2 separate regions of the Homo sapiens genome follow, and region 2 is linked to region 1. Evidence: fine-mapped expression QTL. A gene starts in region 1. The other region holds a variant in brackets. All regions are shown on one strand. Distances are from middle to middle.

Evidence for each region.
Region 2: its variant is fine-mapped to the expression of PRDM8 in fibroblasts (GTEx, PIP above 0.99).

The regions. Positions count from the first base shown.
Region 1 is chr4:80,192,450-80,203,339 of GRCh38, reverse strand. It overlaps PRDM8 (PR/SET domain 8), which reads right to left and starts at 5,837. Exons shown (of 4, transcript NM_001099403.2): 1 at 5,577-5,837; 2 at 3,041-3,261; 3 at 1,819-2,050; 4 at 1-1,426. The coding sequence starts at 3,259. It overlaps PRDM8-AS1 (PRDM8 antisense RNA 1), which reads left to right and starts at 5,996. Exons shown (of 6, transcript NR_183912.1): 1 at 5,996-6,212; 2 at 6,352-6,513. RefSeq lists silencers at 315-414, 875-954 and enhancers at 1,317-2,516, 5,994-6,609, 6,610-7,227.
Region 2 is chr4:80,166,479-80,177,368 of GRCh38, reverse strand. No RefSeq gene overlaps it. Among named protein-coding and RNA genes, the nearest start is that of PRDM8-AS1, 25 kb to the left of the region's middle. The variant G/A (reference allele first, on the strand shown) is at 5,532.

The sequences.
Region 1 (10,890 bases):
CAGTTCTGCGCGGGCAGACACAGCGAGGTGAAGGAGGGCGGCAGCAGCGTGAGCGCCGAGGGCAGCTGCAGCTGCAAGGGCCCCGCGGCCGCCGCCGCAGCCGCGGCTGCAGCGGCAGCGGAGCTCTTGGGCCAGAAGGCGGTGGCGTACAGGAAGGGGCTCTGCTTAGGCAGGCCGCCGCCGCCGCTCGGCAGGGACCCGCAACCTCCGTTCAGGTCCGCGGCCCCCTGGAGCTTCACCGCTAGAGGGTCCGCGGCGGCGGGATAGAGTCTGGTGGGGCCCACGCCGTCGGCGGGGTGGCATGGCTCGAGCGCGCCCAGCTTCTGGCCCAGCACCAGCGGGGACAGCTGCGAGAAAGAGCGTGCTGGCTGCGAGAAGGCGCTTTTGCGCTCGTCCGACGCGGCGCCCTGGCCCCCGCCCGCGCCGCCTGCGGCCCCGGCGCCCGTTCCGCCCCCACCGCTGGTGCTGCCCGCGCTGCCCAGCTGCGGCACCGAAGTGAAGGCGCTGCCCCTCGCAGGACTGCCGCCCTCGAGCCGGCTGGGCAGCGGGCCCCCAGGCCGCGGGGCCAGCAGCTTCTCGGCGCCCACCGGTGACGCGGCCGCGGGCGTGGAGGAGCCGCCGCCGCCGCCAGCGTCCTGGTCCTCGGAGGCGACTCCCGCGCCGTCGGCTGTCCCCTCCTCCTGCAGGCTGGCCGCGCGGGCAGCCTTCTTCACCTCCACGAAGGCGCTGCGCTTCGCCTCGCCCGTCTCGGGACTTGGCGGCGCGAAGAGGCGGCCGTTCTCTTCCAGGCCGAAGTAGCTGCCCGAGGCTCGGTACTGCTGCGGTGTGCACACCAGATCCTCCTTGGAGGCCGGGAGGGGCCGCTCTACGAAGCGGCCCCGGCCCCCTACCAGACCAGCGCCACCGCCGCCCTCCGCCGCCTCCTCCGGGAATTTCCTCTTTCCTTTGCCGCCGCCCGTGGCGATGCCGTCGGGACTCAGCTCCGCCTCCTGGTGGCCGCCGCCGCCGCCGCTGCCGCTACCGCTGCTGAGGCTCTGGGCTGGGGAGCAGCTGCTGCCTCCCCGGGAGTTTTCCAGCTCCCTGGCCAGGTTGTGGAAGTCTGTGGATGGCTTCGCGCTGCTGCCGCCGGCGGCAGCGGATGGGTTGCTGCTTTCCGGGGAGGGGGATGGGTAGTGGTGGAGGGGGCCGGCTTTGCAAAACTTGGGACCCGGGCCTAAAGGTGCCTCCTGCTGCTGCTGCTGCTGGTCTTTGCCACCGCCGCCGCCGCCCCCGTGGTCCTTGGTGCCCACGCCGCCGCCTTGTTCGTCTTGGGGACTTATATCAGCGCTGTGAAGTCTCTTGGGGCAGCGGAAACGCAGATGCGCCACATAGGGGAACTCAAACTGGAAACGTTGGCTGCATTCCAGGCATGTGTAAGGGGACGACCCTGCTTAGTGAGCAAACACCACACACACGCACGCACGCACACACACACACACACGCACACCACATGATTACTCAGCATCGCCCCCAAGCCAGTTTGCCACCATCCCCTTGACAAATCCACCTTCATTTCTCAGGGCCTGAGTGCCTGAGAAAAGAATGACCAACCTGATCTAACTTTCCCTCCTGATTTGGAGGGAATACAGCAAACAAGCAAGTTTCCTCGCTTTATCCTCACCTATCTGTTTAACTTCATTCCAGACTACATCTCAGAATCTTCCTATGAGACACCCGAAGGGAAGAAAGGCGCGCCAACGCGCCGGGTGAGCCCCTGCCGCTCCCTGCGTCTCTCCCCCGCTAGTTAAGGGCCCACACGCCGGTCGCGAGCCAACCTACCATTCATTTTGTTGTGGGATCTAGAGGGGCAGAGCAAGAGTAACTCAGTCAGTTCTTTCCCGTACCAAACTAGTAACTCCTCGTCTTTGGCAATCCTGCGGAGAGAGCGGTAGAACAGCTGTCCGTTTTTTATGTAGGCTTCAAGGTTCTGCTCTTCCTTATCTCTGGCCGATTGGACCAACCGCAGCCACATGAGACCTTCTGAGGAACCATTTGCTGCTGAGGTGTCTACCTGCGGTTTGAAATAAATGAAAGAAGACAAGAAGGAGAGGGGGAGAGGGACCCTCATGAGGGAATGAAATCAGAAGAATCAAGACCATTTCTTCTATGTTAGTCTTTTCCAAAAATTGTCTGAGACCACGCTTCCAAAAGTTTGGCCCAAGCTGGGACCTGTCCTCATGTTTGTAACCATTAGGCAAGATAACCATTCTTTGAAACACTGCATCAATCATATAGTTTATTTAAGTCACCGTTTTTATATATTGGTTGAATACTAAATGAGGAAATTTCTTCTTATAATTTAGTGTTAACCCCTTGAGAGTTTACTTCTAAGTTATTCCACATTACAAAGGTATGGAGAATTTTGTTTGTTTCAGAAATAAAGCAAGCTTAGATCTTAGAAATTATGCTATGGCAATCATGTTCCTAATCTTGGCTAGAACAATTAATAGATTTTCTTTGTAAAGAAGAATAGGAAATGAGAGGTCTGAATCTTCCAATTCAGACATATGGATTTGATGATGCTTTACTGTCAAAACCATAAACATTTTTATTTAAATACAAACTCTGGGCACTAGCTAATATTACCAAAGAAACTAATCTTTAGGGGATGAAGAAGCCTCCTCAAATGGAAGGCAGATGTACCCAATACTTGTCAAAGAACTTGCAGAAACTAGTTAGTATGCAAATAGCCTCCACCCCAGTGAAATCTCCCAGAGTTTAGGAAGTCGTGTTCATCACCAGGATAATCCAGAACTGAAGCACTGATTTAGATATTTCTAACATTCCAAATCAAATTTTGTCATTTATTCCAAAAAATCAGTTGACAATAATTTGAGTTTAATTTTCCTTTTCTAATTTTTGATGTGTGAAATGGGATTGCTTGCATTATTGCATTTTTCCACAGGCAAAACCTATCTCCACTTGTCATTATAATTATTTTTAGTCCATTTCCAACAGGACATTACCCTCATACACCTACACAGCTACAGTGGAGACTTACCCGAAAGATATACGGTACTGTTCTCTTGTCAGTAGACTTGAGAGCTATGAAAGCTATGCTGTCATATAGGGAAGTATGGCTCAGGACACAGGGACCAAATATAGCATTCTCAGGGATGTCGCAGGTGGTGTAAACGCTGGTAAAAATATCTGTCAGACATTGTTGGACAGCCTTGGCATCTCCATCCCAGATGCCTCGCTGGATGCCAGTATCCTCCATCACTGGAGATAGACACACAGCACAAGAAAGTGAGTTATGTTACTGCTTTTAACGCCATTAACCCAAGCAGAACTGTCCAAATACTAGGTAGATTTTCCTTGCACATGCCTGATTTTTGCATAGCTCTTATTTCAAAATTAAAGCAGATAAACATGGCATATTTTAAAGATGAAAACTAAGGGATACTTGTTAAAATAATTAGAATAGTGGGAGATCTGGAGCTGACTGCTTGGGAGAAAGAAAAGAAAGGGCTAGGAAAGACTAGATAATTTTTGCATTACCTTGATGTTGGATTGGGTAGGTTTTAGAGGTGAAGTTCCAGGCAGAATTATATATATATGTACACACACACACACACACACACACACACATATATATATATATACATATATATAATTTTTTAAACCAGCCTATAGACTTCCCTTACTGAAAGAAACTTCTAACCCTTGGGGGAAAGTGCCTGTCTGCCTATGTATTGAACTGGGTGCCCGGGAGCTGATTTTTTTCTTTTCTTCCAAGGAGGGGAACAGCGTTAGTGAGCAGGCGGAGACAGCGGAGCATGGCGAATGGATTTCAAGTGGAATGTCAGGGCCACTAATTCTGTGTCAGCTAACCTTTCTCTGCAGCCTACAAGAAGGGACGTATGTCTGCTCATTACCATAATCCAACACTGTTCCTCTGAGGCTTTAATTAAAAGCAGCAAGCAGAGGTAATTTTTTTTTCTGGACGTGCTTATTTATGGATGAGAGTGAATCCCGGTTACCTTGTTATACAAGGGGGTGGATTGAGTCACATGTGGCTCATGAAGTGAGCAGGTACAGGACAGGCCTAAAGTGTCCCCAGTCTGAAATACTGTGTGTAATGACTGGTAAATTTTCACTCCCCCTACCCCATATGACCCTTTTTGGGCAAGAGGGGGCAGCCCTGCTTGAGCACTCCTCAGTGGGCTCCCCAGCTGTTTAATCCGCAGCAATTTAGAAAGTAATGCCCCAATGCCCTTTATTAAGGTGTCATAAAGGGACATTTTCCTTCCTCTGGACACCCCATACAAGACTTATCACTAAAAAAAAAAAAAAAAAAAAAAAACAAAAAAAAAAAAACCCAAAAAAACCCAGGTATTTAAATTTTTAAACTAGCTTTGAACTAGCTGCATTGCTTAGTATTTCAGACTAATCAAAATATTCCTCCAAGTTTGTTGTTCCCTAATAATGTCACTGTTGGCAATTATTTATGTATGTTTTATATAATTAAAGTAGCAGGAAAGAGTAGATCTAATTCTTTTCCTGCAAAGCTGTTCATTATGGAATAATGTCAGTGACATCTATTTTTATTTTAATTTATATTAACCAGTTAACCTTACACGTGTGATTACAAGGTGTGCTTTTTTCCCCCCATTCCAGCTAACATAGCCTAAAACTTTGGTTAGCCTCATTTTCCATTCATCCTCTTGCATCCCCCAAATGTCAAGTGTTGGGCTGTATCTCCCAGACAGCAGAAATAAGGGAAAATATCCATAAAGTAGAAACTTTTTTATTCTGCATCATCTATCCCTGGTCATTTTTACCCCATACAAGGTAGACATCCTGATTTTTTCATTTCAAATTAAAATACATTTTAAAAACCCCATAACCTCTTATCTCCTTTTCAACGGAATCCTATTCTCCTCTTTTCAATTTCCTTCAATTCAGCGTTTTATTCCCCAATTTCTCTCTTCCTTTTAAAAATCTCTTTCACACAAGCATTTCATTGTGCCGGGAGGTCGCCCCGTCACTTCGGGCAACAGCAGGGACACAGTCATTAAAATGCAGTTCTACCTAACAATACGGCAAAAAGGTCCTCACTACGCCGCGCTAATAGCGGTCGGAGTCGCAGCGCCAGGCGCCACGAGCCTCAAGCCCATCACAATAACCGCTGGGCAAGAGCCTAGGAGCGCCCGCCCGCGTGCGGTCGCCTTTGCCACGCAACGTTTCACAGCTCCGTGCCCCGCTCTAGGCCCAGGTTCTTATCCGCCTGCCCTGGGAATATACCCCAGAGCCGGCGGGGCTTTCTGAAAGCCGGTCGCTGCTGCCCGCCACTGGCCCGTCCCTCTAGGCAGGCATTGTCTGGCGGCCGCGCGCTCCCCAGTCTCCGGCTTCTCCGGCAAAGTGCTCACCACCCGCTCCTCCTTTTGTACAATATTACTGGCAGTAGACAGCCCCTCAAGAATTATTTTTCTCTCTCTTCTGGATAATAAGGAGACGGAAGACAAAATGTTCTACTCTTTCCACCAAACTGTCTTCCTCCCATCCCCCTCCCACATCAATGCAAATAGACTTACCAGGAATAAGGTCAGTATAGAATCTCCCAAATAAGGCCACCTGGAACCGGGAAGATGCAATCGAGTGTTTCCTTTTGCCTATTGTATCAGTGTATTTCCATGTCAAGAGGTGTTGGTGTTGCCGCCTTTTAGGCTCTTCCTGAAGAGATAAGAGAGAGATGGAGAGATGGGGAGAAAAAGATTGGGGGGGTGGAGGGAGGGAGGGAGGGAGAGAGACGGAGAAACGGAGAGAGTTGTACAGATGGACCCGATGCAGTGACTGACTGGCACGCAGACACACACTTTTTGTTTGCTGCACATAATCTGCCCAATGACGCGTGACAGCCCACGTCCCCTCCCTTTAACTCTTTGCTGGGCCAGGCGCTCCCTCCGGCGCCGCCTGCCTCGCAGCTTTTTCCCCCGGCCTGCCCGCGCCCCGCAGATCCTGAGCGCCTACCCCGGGTGGCAACGCCTCTCAGAGAGCGTCCCGGCCCGCCTCCTCCTAAAGCTCGGGCCCTCTGGGACTGCTAGGAGGGGAAAATCGTTTCAGGATTGGAAAGGAAGGTACCAAAATGATTGGAGAGGGCCTTTCCCCGTTTCACTAGGCACTTGGAGAAGCTGTGACAGAGAGCTGGACACCCAGCGCGTGCGGACCCCGTGCGTATTTCCCCGGAGTCCGCGTTCCGTGAAAGGGAGAGGGGTGCGGTTAGCTCCAGGGATTCTCTAGCCCTGGAGCCACCGCTGATTTGCGCAGCTAGTTGCCTGGGGGTGATAAACGGGCGTCGTCTCTCTTCAGGAGCGCCAACACTACCAAGCTTCCCCCTGCAAAATTCAGAAAGGATGCGCTTTGGTGAGAACTTGGCTCAGCCTTCCCGTGGCTTGGGAGATGAGGTTGGAGTGAGAATGTCACCAGACCTCGGAAGGGGACATAACGGTACCTCCTAGTCCCAGGACACGGGTACGTGGGCGGAGGTGGGGTGTGGGAGGTTGGTGGGAAGAGCGCAGGTTACTGGACTCAAACAGTTCCTGTTTTTTTTTTGTTTGTTTTTGTTTTCGTGGGGTTTTTCCCCCCCTCTGCTTGGTGCGTTCTGCGCAGCCCCAGAGGGAGTCTATAATGGGTACTGTTGGCACTCTGAGGTCTTGGGGTTGGGGGGCAAGGGTGATTAAAAATAAAAATGATTACCAAGATGGGCTCCGGAAAGCTTTTCACATCCAGCGGGTGGTGGAGGAGGGGATGGAGTTGCCGAGGCCGTCTCGGGAGCCTCGTTTGTGCGCTAAGCCACTTAGAGGCGCTGACTTGCCCCTTTAGTGCAGCAGCTGATGCTAATGACTTGAGGTCTTTAACAGCCTGCAAGTTGACTCCTTCAACGGGGCTGCAACACCACGTCGCTGGGGAATCTCGGGCTTCTTTTTCACAGTTCAATTCTCTACTCCTAAAGGAAGAAAGGCCTTTGAGTGGTATAGACAGTTTCTCAACTCCTTCAGCCCCACACACACCACCACTACTTTGAAGTGGGCAATCTGTCAGCATTAGGATAAATCGGATTGTGTAGCTAGCTAAAGTGGAGGAGGCAGAACCACAACGTAAGGAGACAGCCTCGTTGTTGTTTTTCCTAGTGTTGAAATAATGTATTTGGGGAGTTGGCAAAGAGCAGCTTACCATGTTAGTTTGATCCTCTCCCAGCTTTGAGACCCTTCTCTGGAACTCAGTGGGGTATTGAGGCTTTGACAGCCTGGTGACTGCAGTCCCAGGAGGCCAGGGGAGGATTTTGCTGAGGAGAAACAAGTGCAAGGACTTTCCCATGAAGTTCATGTTCTTCCTTGTTCTCTCTCTCTCTCTCTCTCTCTCTCTCTCTGTGTGTGTGTGTGTGTGTGTGTGTGTATTTCCTTCTCTTTTCTGGTTAGTACCCCAGGCAAATTCCGAATTGCTGCCTAGAATTAAGCTGAAATTCACAGAAGGAAGGGCTGCAAAATCCCCATATATTCAGAGAAAATGGGGAATCCCTTAGTTTTCAGGTTAGCTACTGACTTTTCAAAGAAAGCTTCTTGAAGTGCAGTTTTATGTACTTTGGCTATGTGCAATTTTATCTACTTCGGCTAAGGTTGGCTCCTAATGACCAAGGCTCAGTGCAATGAGGGCTCTCTCACATGCCTGTATGTAAGAATCTGCAGCTATACTGAGCTACCAATTGTCTTCTGACTGATTGCTCCATTGAATACTAGATTCACTTCTCAGTCTCTCTCTCTCTCTACACACACACAAACACACACACACACACACACACAAAGTATGGACACATGGTCCCCTAATACTTCTTTAAAGAATGGGTGGAAGCATTAGAAATGTGAAAATAATGTCTCAAACATCTGGAAAATAAACCTCAGGTTTGAAGAATAGTGGCCAGAAACTTAAGTTAATTCAGAGTAGAAGAAAGAAGAAAAATAAAGAGCAGAAGAGGCACGGGTGTAAACAACTTCAAGTTAAGAAAGAAAAGTAGCCATAAGAGAGTCATGTGGTCCCTTAGAAACTAGACTGATAAATGCAATATGGTGTGTGAGGAGCAGTGTTTAAGAACATAATTTCATTAATCTGTCTAACAGAACACTCCTTAATGCTTTCTTTTGCTGTTATTTAGAGAATTGGAATTTTATCTTTCAGGAAAAGTCATCTGTCCATGCAAACCATTAAAAAATTATCTTACATATTGTAAATATGTAAGCCTCTACTCCAGAATGTGGACATTTAGAAAATAAACTCTAAATGGAAGGCATTTTTCTTGTGCCTGGCCTTTCTCTTATTAAATACAGAGACCATTTAAACTATATTTCTTTTGAGGTACTAAAACCTTGACTCCAGTTTGTATAAAATAATGTTTTTGGTACTTAAGTTGAGGGTGGAACAGCTTGACCTTTTTATGTCTTAAGCTAGAAAACAGCGACAATTTTATACATCTGAGAAGGGAGCAATTTATTGAGAATCTGGCCAACAGATGCTTCATTTCAGTTTCACTTTTTTGCCCTCTAATTAATTTTTTTCCTACTGCTTTCAGGTAGAGATCCTTAAATATAAGAATTTCTCACATTTTATGAATCTGACCTACCCTTTTTATTATGAGTTAAATAACTGACATAACAAAACAATATAAGTAAGATTAAGTCGAAATTCTTACTTGAAGAGTTTTCTAGTAATTTAAGTGGTACACATTTTGCTTGGTAATATAAATGTCCTAAATGACAATAATTAATAGGGGATAAAGAAAATCTACAAATTATTTTTATTTCTGTAGAAATTTATGGGCTAAAATGGTACATAAACTACTTTGAAATCACTCTGCATTAATACTTACTGGAATTCACTGATACTAAATGAAGGGTTGAGGCATTTATTCAGCCTCAGACAGTACTATAAAAGTGTACCTAGTCAATAGTTTTATGTAATTCATATGGAACAATGGGTTTATGCATATATTTGGAGCTCTCTTCCCTAGGATTTTATTTCCAATTAAGTAATTAGAAGAATGACAATGAAGAGTGGGTATGCTCACCTTGTTCCACTTTAGCAAGGCTCTTTGGAGTCCTGGCAAAAATACACATGTAGGAAACTGTAGTGTTATTTTGGAAGAGTGGGCTGGAGAGAGGTTGATAAATGACACCCCAGGTGGCTTTTATGACCTAAGTGAGAGGGTGGAGAAAGGGTAAGAAAGGGAATTTTAATTCTTAGGGAGTATTAGAATGGGAACACTCTTTCTCTTCCCAGGGTTCAAAAATGGAGCCCAAAATATTTCAACTTCTGTGATAAGAGGCAGGTAACATCTCCAAGAATAATTCACGTAAAGATTATTATCCCATGAGAATGAAAACACACTGATTTTCTTTTTCTATATCTTTCTAGGTCCTGGCTTACCCACCTCTAACTCTATTGCCAAAGCACTATGCCAGCAAAGGCTTGATTGTCAAAAGAGTATGGCAATTCATGGTGAAAGGGGGGGAAAAAACCCACACACTGGAAGATAAGAGGATGCCAATGGAGCAGACAGTGGCAGCTCCTTCCTAAGCTTATTAATTTCCCACAGGGAGGTCTCTGGAAGGGGCTGTGAGGGTTGAGGGAGGAAGAGAATAGATCTTCAAGGAGGAGTATTGTATTACCTAGCCTCACCATTCAGAATAAGGAACTTTTTAAGGGATAAACTTTACTGACTACTTGTACATGAAAGAGAAACAGAAATGATGGGCTGGTCAATTAAGAAAAACACCAGGCCTGTGCCAAAAATGTTGTTCAGAGGGTTGTTAACTCATTTTCTACCACTTTGCCTTTATCAAGAGAAAGATACATGGTGGGTTTTTAAAAAGACCCAGAGGGGTTTGTTTGTTTGTTTTACATTTTGGTGAGTCGAGAAGAGCCATGCTTGCTGAGTTGGGTAAAGGATGATGTGAGGGGGTGGGGTGTGGGAAGGGCTACTCGTTTTTTATAAGTATACATTGCAAACTCAGTTTAGGTCTGTTCCTCACCCTAAGTATTGTAGTTGGCTCACTGGGTATTACATGAGCAAATGTTTTCCAGGCTGGCCCTGGGAAAGCCAGAGACTCAGGGTTGGGTAATTTTGTAGCCTGTGAGGAAGGACTTCAGGCTCCCAACTGTAGGGATCATTACTTCTGACTCATACTTTTCTCTCTTGGGCTTTTCCTCGTAAATGATCCTGCTTTTAATCCTGCTGCTCCTGCAGCTACTACTACCACCATTATCATTACAATGATAATCTACCTTTCTCAAGTTTAAAACTTTCTCTCTTAGCCATTCCCAAGTTTTACTTACACTTGTGTTGGAGTTCAGCTGAGAATGGGATAGTCTTTGAAAGCTGTATGTTATTATCTTCCTCTCCTGGATCTGGGTTGTAGTGAACTGGCTTAATGGCCTCTGAGTATGACTTTTAGAAGGGCTAGCAAACCGAAGTGACATTGTGCACAACTACCAACAGATATGAAATCAGTGCCCCATACTCATCTGTGTGAGTGTGACCTCTGAACCAAATCCAATATCCACTATTTCAACCCCCTGGGTTCTCCCAAATGTTATACTCTTCCCCAGATGAGTGTGTAAAGATCTGGCAAGAAAAGGCTTGGATTTTTGTCAAATCTGTAGGTTCCAAAGTCCTTCCTAGACTCAGACACCACACCCTTTGAACGCATCTCAGTGTGAAGGGGGTTGACTGGTTGTAGCCAGTTCTCCATCAGTCACTCTGAACCTCCTTACCCTCTGGGTCAGGATTTTTAGGCAGACTGCAGATCAGGGGATGTCTAGCAGTCTCAAATTGGTGTCCAGCAGTCTCAAATGAAA
Region 2 (10,890 bases), 26 kb after region 1:
CCATAGGTGAATCACAGTGGAGGCCTCTAGGCCTCCATTGCTGTCATCTTCTGGAGATAACTACTCTCCTTTTGAGAGACAGCTCTTGGCCTGTTACTGGGCTTTAGTGGAAACTGAATGTTTGACTATGGGCCAAGTCACCATGCAACCTGAACTGCCTTTCATGAACTGGGTGCTTTCTGACCCATCCAGCCACAAAGTGGGTTTTGCACAGCAGCATTCCATCATCAAATGTAGGTGGTATATATCTGATCAGCCTTAAGCGGGTCCTGAAGACACAAGCAAGTTACATGAGGAAGTGGCTCAAATGCTCATGGTCTCCACTCCTGCCACCCTGCCTTCTCTTCCCCAGCCTGCACCGATGGCCTTATGGGAAGTTCCCTATGATCAGGTGACAGAGGAAGAGAAGACAAGGGCCTGGTTCACAGATGGTTCTGCACGATATGCAGGCACCACCTGAAAGTGGACAGCTGCAGCACTACGGCCCCTTTCTAGGACATCCCTGAAGGACAGCGGGTGAAGGAAAATCTTCCCAGTGGGCAGAACTTTGAGCAGGCCACCTGGCTGTGCACTTTGCATGAAAGGAGAAATGGCCAGATGTGCCATTATATACTGATTCATGGGCTGTAGCCAATGGTTTGGCTGGATGGTCAGGGACTTGCAAGAAGCGTATTGGAAAACTGGTGACAAAGAAATTTGGGGAAGAGGTACATGGAAGGACCTCTCTGAGTGGTCAAAAACCATGAAGATATTTGTATCCCATGTGAGTGCTCAGCAATGAGTGACTCCAGCAGAGGAAGATTTTAATAACCAAGTGGATAGGATTACCTGTTCTGTGGACACCATTCAGCCTTTTTCCCCAGCCACCCCTTTCATCGCCCCAACGGGCCCATGAAGAAAGTTTCCATGGTGGCAGGGATGGAGGTTACACATGGGCTCAGCAACATGGACTTCCACTCACCAAGGCTGACCTGGCTGTGGCCACTGCTGAGTGCCCAATTGACCAGCAGCAGAGACCAACACTGAGCTCTCAATATGGCTCCATTCCTCAGGGTGATCAGCCAGCTACCTGGTGGCAGGTTGATTATATTGTACCTCTTCCATCATAGAAAGAGCAGAGGTTTGTCCTCACTGGAATAGACACTTAGTCTGGATATGGGTTTGCCTATACTGCATGCAATGCTTCTGCCAAGACTACCATCTGTGGACTAACTGAATGCCTTATCCACCATCACAATATGCCACACAGCATTGCCTCTGACCAAGGCACTCACTTTACAGCTAAAGAAGTGTGACAGTGGGCTCATGCTCATGGAATTCACTGGACTTAGCATGCTACTCAACATCCTGAAGCAGCTGGATTGATAGAATATTAGAATGGCCTTTTGAAGTCACAATTACAATGCCAACTAGGTGACAATACTTTGCAGGGCTAGGGCAAAGTTCTCTAGAAGGCCATGTATGCTCTGAATCAGTGTCCAATATATGGTTCTGTTACCCCCATAGCCAGGATTCACAGGTCCAGGAATCAAGAGCTGGAAGTGGAAGTGGCACCACTCACCATCACCTCTAGTTATCCACTAGCAAAAGTTTTGCTTCCTGTTCCCATAACCTCACGTTCTGCAGACCTAAAGGTCTTAGTTCCAGAGGGAGGAACGCTGCCACCAGGAGACACAACAACAATTCCATTAAACTAGAAGTTAAGATTTCCATCTGAACACTTTGGGGTCCTCTTACCTTTAAGTCAACAGACTAAGAAGGGAGTTATAGTGTTGGCTGGGGTTATTGATCCAGACTATCAAGATGAAATCAGTCTACTACTCCACAACGGAGGTAAGGAAAGAATATGCACGGAATACAGGTGATCCATTAGGGTGTCTCTTAGTATTACCATGCCCTGTGATTAAGGTCAATGGGAAAGTACAACAGCCCAATCCAGGCAGAACTACAAATGGTCCAGACCCCTCAGGAAGGAAGGTTTGGGTCACTCCACCAGGAAAAAAAACATGACCTGCTGAGGTGCTTGCTGAAGGTAAAGGGAATACAGAATGGGCAGTAGGAGAAGGTAGTCATAAATACCAGCTATGACCACTTGACCAGCTGCAGAAATGAGGACTGTAACTGTCATGAGTATTTCCTCCTTCTTTTGTTAAAAACATGTTTGTGCATGTATACACTTGTACTGAGAAATTATCCTCATTTTATTTCCTTTTCCTTTATCATGTGACATAAGATTAATTGACTTCATATCAGCATTTAAGTATTGTTAACTTTATGTAATAGTATTTGGATGGGGGTATTGGTGCATTTCCGGTTGTACGAAAGATAGTTGTATTATTTTAAGTGTAATTATGACCTTATTATTGTCTTTATTTGAAGATTATGTATGATCTCAGGAGATATATATGGGTTCAAGTTGACAAGGGGTGGAGTTGTGATAGTTAATACTGAGTGTCAACTTGACTGGATTGAAGGATACAAAGTATTGATCCTGGGTGTGTCTGTGAGGGTGTTGCCAGTAGAGATTAACATTTGAGTCAGTGGGCTGGGGAAAGCAGATCCACCCTTAATCTGGTGGGCACAATCTAATCAGCTGCCAGCAAATATAAAGGAAGCAGAAAAATGTGAAAAGGAGAGACTGGCCCAGCCTCCCAGCCTACATCTTTCTCCCATGCTGGATGGTTCCTGCCCTCTATCATCAGACTCAAAATTCTTCAGTTTTGGGACTTGGACTAGCTCTCCTGGCTCCTCAGCTTGCAGACAGCCTATTGTGACACCTTGTGATTGTGTAAGTTAATACTTAACAAATTCCCCTTTATATGTATATATATAATATATGTACATGTGTATATATAGGGGAGTGCACAGTATATTGTTATATGTGTTCTATTTTATCTTATTGTTCATCTCTTGCAGTGTCTAATTTATAAATCAATTATTTTCAGAGGTATGTATGTATCAGAGAAAACATAGTATATACAGCATTTGGTATTATCTGTGATTTTAGCCATCCACTGGTGGTCTTGGAAATAATTGCCCCATCCTCAGGTAAGGGAGTGCTACAAAGATGTGGACCAGGTGATGAGAACAAACGAGAGAGTGAGGGACACAGAAACCAGCATAACAAGAAGATTTTAGGAGAGGAATTAGTGTTTCTACAGTCTGCTAAGGACCAGAACCTTGGAAGAAGGGCCCAGTGTGAGACCTACAGAAACAGCTACTGACACAGAGACAATGGTGTAGCAAGGAGAGGACAGGGAAGAAATAACTCATCTTTTCTTTTCTCACATGCTCCAATTTCATGTTAATGCCTTCCAATGGCCTAACTCAACCGGAAGCTAACTAACCAGCAAGGTTCTGGAGCATGCTAACGAATCTGCATGAGTCAGCCTCTGGCAATATAGAGCCAGGAGAGGACAGAGAATGGATTTTGGAGAGACAAATGGAGAATAACCATTACATTACTACTATTATTCACAAATAGAATTATCTGAGAACTCTTTCTGAAAACATCTTTTTCATGCACAGTTTCAACTGGAAGTAAAAACTTACTGGGTTTTGTAAACTTAAGCATCCAAGATTTTAAAGAATCATTTCTCAGAGCCCTTTGGCTGGAACATTCCTAGTAGCATTTAGGAAGGATTTCCAGAAGTCTTGGGAGGCTTTGCAAGCCAAAATCTGGAAGAATTTGAGAGTATGCTTTTATTGACTTCCTTTGGGCATCCCCAGGTCTCTCATCATTTGGTGGTTTCCTGTGTCAGCACCAGTCTTACTATGCCTGGTTAGTCACTTGCTGATTGTTTTCAAGGAAGCCAGCCAGGCTTCAACAAAGGGTGACTACCTCAAAACAAATCAGCTGCACAGCAATAGGAACTCCTACTAATGGCTTCCCTTGAATTCACAAACTGTGTAGATTTTAGAATGAAGTAACATTTTCTCTTTCCAACTTTGCCATCCCTGTCTCTTCCTCCTGAACCTGAACTAACCCACAGACAAAAAAATGGAAGAGGACAGTGGTGGAGAAGCATGCTCTCTTTCCTGAAGCCTTAGATTAAAATTATACTCAAGGCCGGTTGTCATGGCTCATGCCTGCAATCTCAGTGCTTTAGGAGACTGAGCTGGGAGGATAACTTGCGACCAAGAGCTCAGGATCAGGTTGGGCAACATAGCAATATTCTGTCTCTGCAATAAATAAATAAATCAAATTATCTGATTGTGGTGGCACGTTCCTGTAGTCCCAGCTACTGAGGAAGCTGAGGTGGGAGAATTGCATGAGCCTGGGAGTTCAAGGCCACAGTAAGTTAAAATTGTGCCACTGCAATCCAGCCTGAGCAACAAAGGAAGACTTTAACTCTAAAAAAAAATTATAGCCAATATCAGAGTCTTGAATATTCACTGTAAACATCAGCACAAACAAAAGCCCGATTTCTAAATCTCATAGAAACTAAGAGTTTGAAAACTTGAGAGGACTGATATAAAGTTGGAAGTCAGTGTTTCAAAGGAGAGAGACAGAGTTAGCTATAGGAAAACAGAAAATTAGGAGTGGAAAGCAAAGAAGAGTCTTGTAAGTAACATATATAGCTGAACAATAAATACAAGTGAAATAGATTGACTTCTAGAATGGCAGTGTGGGAAACTCTGCTGAGCCACTCCTCAGTGAAACTGGTGAAAATTGTGTGTAAAGAAACAACCACTTAAATTCTCTGGAAATGGTCCTAAGGGCAAATGGTAAATAAAGAAATACCTATTAGAGGAAATTATGAATATCTGTCAAGAGAGGTGAGTCTGTGACATTTGAACTGAAACTACTACTTTCCTTGCCCCTCCCAGCTCAGTGAGGCAGAGACTCTACTCCAGACGCTGCAGCCAAGAATATGACTCTTTATATTCCTTAGGTGTCAGCTGCAGGGCTTTCATTGCAATAGGACATAACTTGAGCTTTTTTGGTCCTGCCCGTAGCTGTCTGTTGCTAAGGCTAAGTCTTAGGTGAATACAACTGGGAGGAGGAAGCTTCCTTCTCCCACCCAACACTTTCTTGTAAAAAGGAAGTTCTACCTTGGGTGTGGTGCATTGAGAATGAAACTACCTTTGCAAAAATTATGACAGTGAGAGAAATGTAACCTAGCTGACACTGCCATACTTCTAACTTAACAAGCTAACTGTGTTTGCTCATTCCTGGGTGTAGGCGAAGCTAATTGTGGAAGGAATTTAGCTTATAGTTTAACTTTAAATAAAGGATAATAGTCTCCCCCAAAAACTGACCCCCTCTGGGGACTGAAACCACCTTTGTAGGACTAATGAAAGGCCAAAAGCTTAGGATTATGAGTGGGGAATGAATTCTGGTAAGATGTAGATGTAGTTAAATGATAACCAGCCACAGTTCCGAAGATGACAAGATTTGTAAGTTCTTTAATTGCTCTTATAGATACCAACGGTATTGTCAAAACCCAATATTGGTCTTTGAGGTATTTTTCAGACTTTTGCACTTTGGCTGACCAGTTGATGCCACCTGGATCTGTGACTCATACCAG[G/A]GAACTGACTTAACCAATCCTGTGACCCCCTACCCTGAAACTGACTCAGCACATGAAGAACATTTTGGATACACCTATGATTTCATCCTGAACCAATCAGCAGGACCTAGTCCCTAACCCCCTGCCTGCCAAATTATCCTTAGCCTCCGAGCTTTCAATACTTAAACTCTTTCTTTGCTGCAGTATCTGCTATTTTCAGGGAATTGGCTTTTCTGGGCAGTGGGTAAGATGAACCAATTGGGCTGTTAACAGGAATACTGGAGCCTTGGGAGCCTTTTCCTTGGCCTTTGAAGTAAAGTTTCCACACCATGAGTGGCAAGCTGAAAGACCTGCAAACTCCTCTCTCACCCCATCCACCAAGCATTCAGCAATTAGAGCCAGGGTATTACTCAGAGAGAAGCTTGTCATTGTTTCCACCCCCAACTCCGTGCTCTAGCTCAGAAATTTTGCCTAGGGAGAGAATCAGGCCATAAAGCATGCAACTCTTTATCTCTTCCCAAGGGATCTTACTTTATTCCAAACAAAGTGTAGATAATTTTAAACTTAAGGGCACTCTCAAGAACAGTAGAAGTTGTGGTGAAAAGCAATTGAGAGGAAATTTTGGGACCAAATGAAGATATAGCCTAGACTGTAGGCCAGCTAGTTTGTAAGAGAGAACTGGGAAATAAGATAGCTGACAGGAGCTCTCTTGGAGTTAATACAAATAGCAAACACTGATCTCAGAAACTTTCCCATATAAAGTGTCACAATATTATTAGATTTATTTGTATATCTTTTTTTTTTTTTTTTTTTTGAGACAGAGTCTCACTGTGTCTCCCAGGCTGGAGTGCAATGGCACAATCTCAGCTCACTGCAACCTCTGCCTCATGGGTTCAAGCGATTCTCCTGCCTCAGCCTCCTGAGTAGCTGGGATTACAGGCACCTGCCACCATGCCCAGCTAATTTTTGTATTTTTAGTAGAGACGGGGTTTCACCGTGTTGGCCAGGCTCGTCCCAAACTCCTGACCTCAGATGATCCTCCCGCCTTGGCCTCCCAAAGTGCTGGGATTACAGGCATGAGCCACCATGCCCGGCCAATTGGATTTATTTGTAAAGAAAAAATTATGTTCCAGGGCACTGTTGGAAACAATTAAGCAATAGGCCAGAAATTAGTAGAGTTTAACAGCTAGGTGTAATCAGCGAAAGGGTGGGAGAGAATCTTACCAGTACCACTACTATCCCAGGATAATTGTTAGATATACCCAGAACTGTGCCTCACTGATCAGAGAGCATCAGAGGCTTACCATGATGTGTATGTTGAAAAGTGAGGGAATGGAAGCCAGGGAATAGACTTCAACTAAAATAACTCAGCACTCACTAAACAAATAAACAAGAAAATAATAATCGCAATCCTAGAGGGGGGCGGGGTACCAGTTTCCAGAGTTACTAAGATATATTATCTAAAATGTCCAGTTTCTAACAACAAATTATGAGCATGCAAAAGAATGGAAAAGTATAAATTGTATACTGGATGAAATACATGCAACAGAAACTTCTTATCAGGGTAAATTAAACAATTAAATCAAAAAGCAGAGATTATCAGACTTGATTTAAAAACATGCTTTAACTATATGTTGTCTTCAGGATAAACTTTATATTCAAAGACATAAATAGATTGAAAATAAAAGGATTTAAAAATATCAAAGACCAGGTGCAGTGGCTCATGCCTGTAATTCCAGCACTTTGGAGGCTGAGGTGGGCAGATCACTTGAGGCCAGGAATTTGACACCAGCTTGACCAACTTGGTGAAATCCCATCTGTACTAAAAGTACAAAAATTAGCCAGGCATCGTGGCACACACCTGCAGTCTCAGCTATTTAGGGAGCTGGGGCATGAGAATCACTTGAACCTGGGAGGTGGAGGTTGCAGTGAGTTGAGATGGTGCCACTGCACTCCAAACTGTGTGACTGAGTGAGATCCTATCTAAAAAAAAAAAAAAAAATTCAAGCAAACAACAACCACAAGAAAGCTGGCGTGGCTATACTAATAACTAAGTTAAACAGTTTTGCAGGATACAAAATCACTCTGCAAGAATAATTTGTATGTCTATACACTTACAATAAACAATATGAAAATAAGTTAAGTAAACAATTTCATTCATATTAGCATCAGAAAGAATAAAATACCCACAGGAGCAAATTTAACAAAATAAACGCAAAATTTATACCCTGAATACTACAAAATATTGTTAAAAGAAATTACAGAAGATTAAATAAGTGAAAAAACATACCATGGTCATGGATAGTAAGACTTAATATTGTTAAAATGGCAATATGTTGATCTACAGATTCAACATAATTTTTATTGGAAACCCAGCTGACTTTGCTGACATTGATGGCTGACTCTAAACTTAATGCGAAATTGCAAGGAACTCAGAATACCAAAACAAACCTGAAAATAATAAATAAGGAGAGCTTATATGTCTTGGTTTCAAAACCTACTACAAAGCAATTGTAATAATAACAGAGTGATACTGGCACAAGACAAACATTTTTATTTATTTGCTTAGGTGCCATAGCAGAATATCACAGACTGGATGGCTTAAGCAACAGAAATGTATTCTCTCACAGGTCTTGAGGCTGAAAGTCCAAGATCAAGGTGTCATCAGGAATGGTTTCTGGTATGAACTTTCTTCCTGAGTTGCAGATGGCTGCCTTTTCACTGTCTTCTCCTATGTGAGCATGCACTTGTGGTGTTTCTTTCTCTTGTTCTAAGGATACCCGTCCTATTGGGTTCAGGTCCTACTTTTATGACCTCATTTAATCTTCATTACCTTCTTAAAGGCTGTATCTCCAAATACAGATGGGTTAGGGCTTCAATACATGTATATGGGGGGCAGGAAACACAATTCAGTCCATAACACAATGCACAGAATTGAGAATCTAGAACTAAACCCATATCTCCATGGCCAACTCATTTTGTGCACAGGGTCCTAAAACATTAATGGGGAAAGAATAATCCCCACAAATTGTGCTGGGACAATTGGATAGCCACAGGCAAAAGAATGAAGCTAAACCCTTACCTCATACCATACACAAAAATTAACTCAAAATGGATCGAAGTCCTAAAAACTGAATGTTCTTAGAAGAAAACATAGAGGTAAAATCTTCATGATTTTGGATTTTCTAAAGAATTCTATAATATGATATTCAAATTAAAAGCAACAAAAACATTGAGAACTTGCAAATCATATATTTGATAAGAGTCTTACAGCTACAGTATAGAAAGAGCCCTTGCTACTCAATAATAAAAAAGTGATGCAATTAAAGAAAGAGCAAAGGATTTAAATAGACATTTCTCTAAAGAAGATTTAAAAATCACTAATAGGCACTTGAAAAGATGCTCAATATTATTAGTAATGAGGGAAATTTAAATCAAAACAACAATGAGGTATCATTTCACACATACTAGATTGGTTATAATAAAAAGGACAGATAATAACAAGTGTTGCCAAGGATGTGACAGTTCTTCAGAAGGTTAAGTTATCATATGATCCAGAAATTCTATCCTTTGATAACATATTCAAGGGAGTTTAAAAGATATGTTCGCACAAAAACTTGTATGCCCATGCTCATAGGATCACTATTCATAACTAAAAAGTGGAAACAACCCAAATATCCATCAACTGATGAATGAATAAACAGAATATCTTATATGTATACAATGGAATAATATTTACCCATAAAACCTAATGATATACCGCCACACACTACAACAAGAATGAACCTTGAAAACATTATACTAAGGAAAATAAGCTAGGTACAAACTGACAAATATTTTATAATTCTACTTGTATGAAGTATTTAGATTAGTAAAATTCATAGAGGCCAAAAGTAGAACAGTGGGGTGAGGAGGAAAGGAGAGTTATGATTTAGTGGGTACAGAGTTTCTGTTTGAAACAACGAAAAAGTTCTGGAGATGGATAGTGGTGAAGGTTGCACAACAGTGTGAATGTAGTTAATGCCACTGAGCTGTACACTTAAGGAAAAGTGTTAAAATGGTAAATTTTATGCACGTATATTTTATCACAACTGCACACATTGCAGGTGAGATAATATTTTGTGATGGGGTTTTAATGTGGAGGGAGGGTAAAAAGACACATATGGTGGTAATGTATCTATAGTCTACCTAAAGTAGTGAAATACTTATTCTACGTAGACTGTGCAAAACTAGCATGCTATCTTATAAGCCCTAGTGCAATTGCTTAAAAGCTATACAAAATATATAATAAAAAACAATGGATAAACCTAAATCACTAGCTACCACTTCACAACACTAGAATGGTTGTAAGAAAAAAATAATAATAAGTGTTGGCAAAGATATGGTAGGTAATTTCTCAAAAAGTTAAACACAAAGTTACCATATAATCCAGAATACTAAAAAATGCTTAACCTAAAATAGGAAAGGGAAAACAGGAGAACAGAAATGAGATACACTGAACAAAAACAAATAATAAAATGGTAGCTCTAAATGCAAACTTTCAATAATTGTATTAAATGAAAATGTTCTAAACACACCAATGGAAAAGACAGGGAAAAAAAACCACCACAAAACAAATTTATGCTGTCTACAAAATAGTGTGTTCAAATATATTTGATCAAAAAATATTAGGTCAATAGTAGAATGATAAAAATGAACACCTGAAAACATTAATCAATAGATATCTGCAGTGGCTATATTGATTACTGATATAGACTTTATAGCCAAAAAACTACCAGGAATAAAAGGGTCAGTATATAATGTTAAAGGAGTCAAATTATCAATAAGATAAAACCATCTTCAATCTGTATGCACCTAGTAATAGTAATTAAGTTACACAAAACAAAAAGGAATGGAAGTTAAAAGGTAAATAGACTAATATACAATTATAATTGAAGACTCCAATACTATTTTCTCAGTAACAGAATAACTAGTAGACCAAAAAATCAAGCAGGATATAGAAGAAAAAAGTATCACTATCGAACAACTGGATCTAATTGGCATTTATAGAACACTCCCCCAAACAACAGCAAAATATACATTTTTTCCCACATGCAATTGGAATCTTTACCAAGATAAGACGTGTCCTGGAACATAAAAAAAAATTAACAAATTTAAAATATTTGGAATATATGAAGATGTTCTCTGACCACAGTGGATATTAAACAAGAAACAAATATCAGAAAATTAACAGGAAAATTTCTAGACCCTTGGAAGTTAAATAACACGTATTGAAATAACCCATGTATCAAAGCAGAAATCTCGAGAGAAATTAGAAAATATTTTGAAATGAAGAAAAATGAAAATACATAAATTTTTTTTTGATGCAACTAAGTCACTG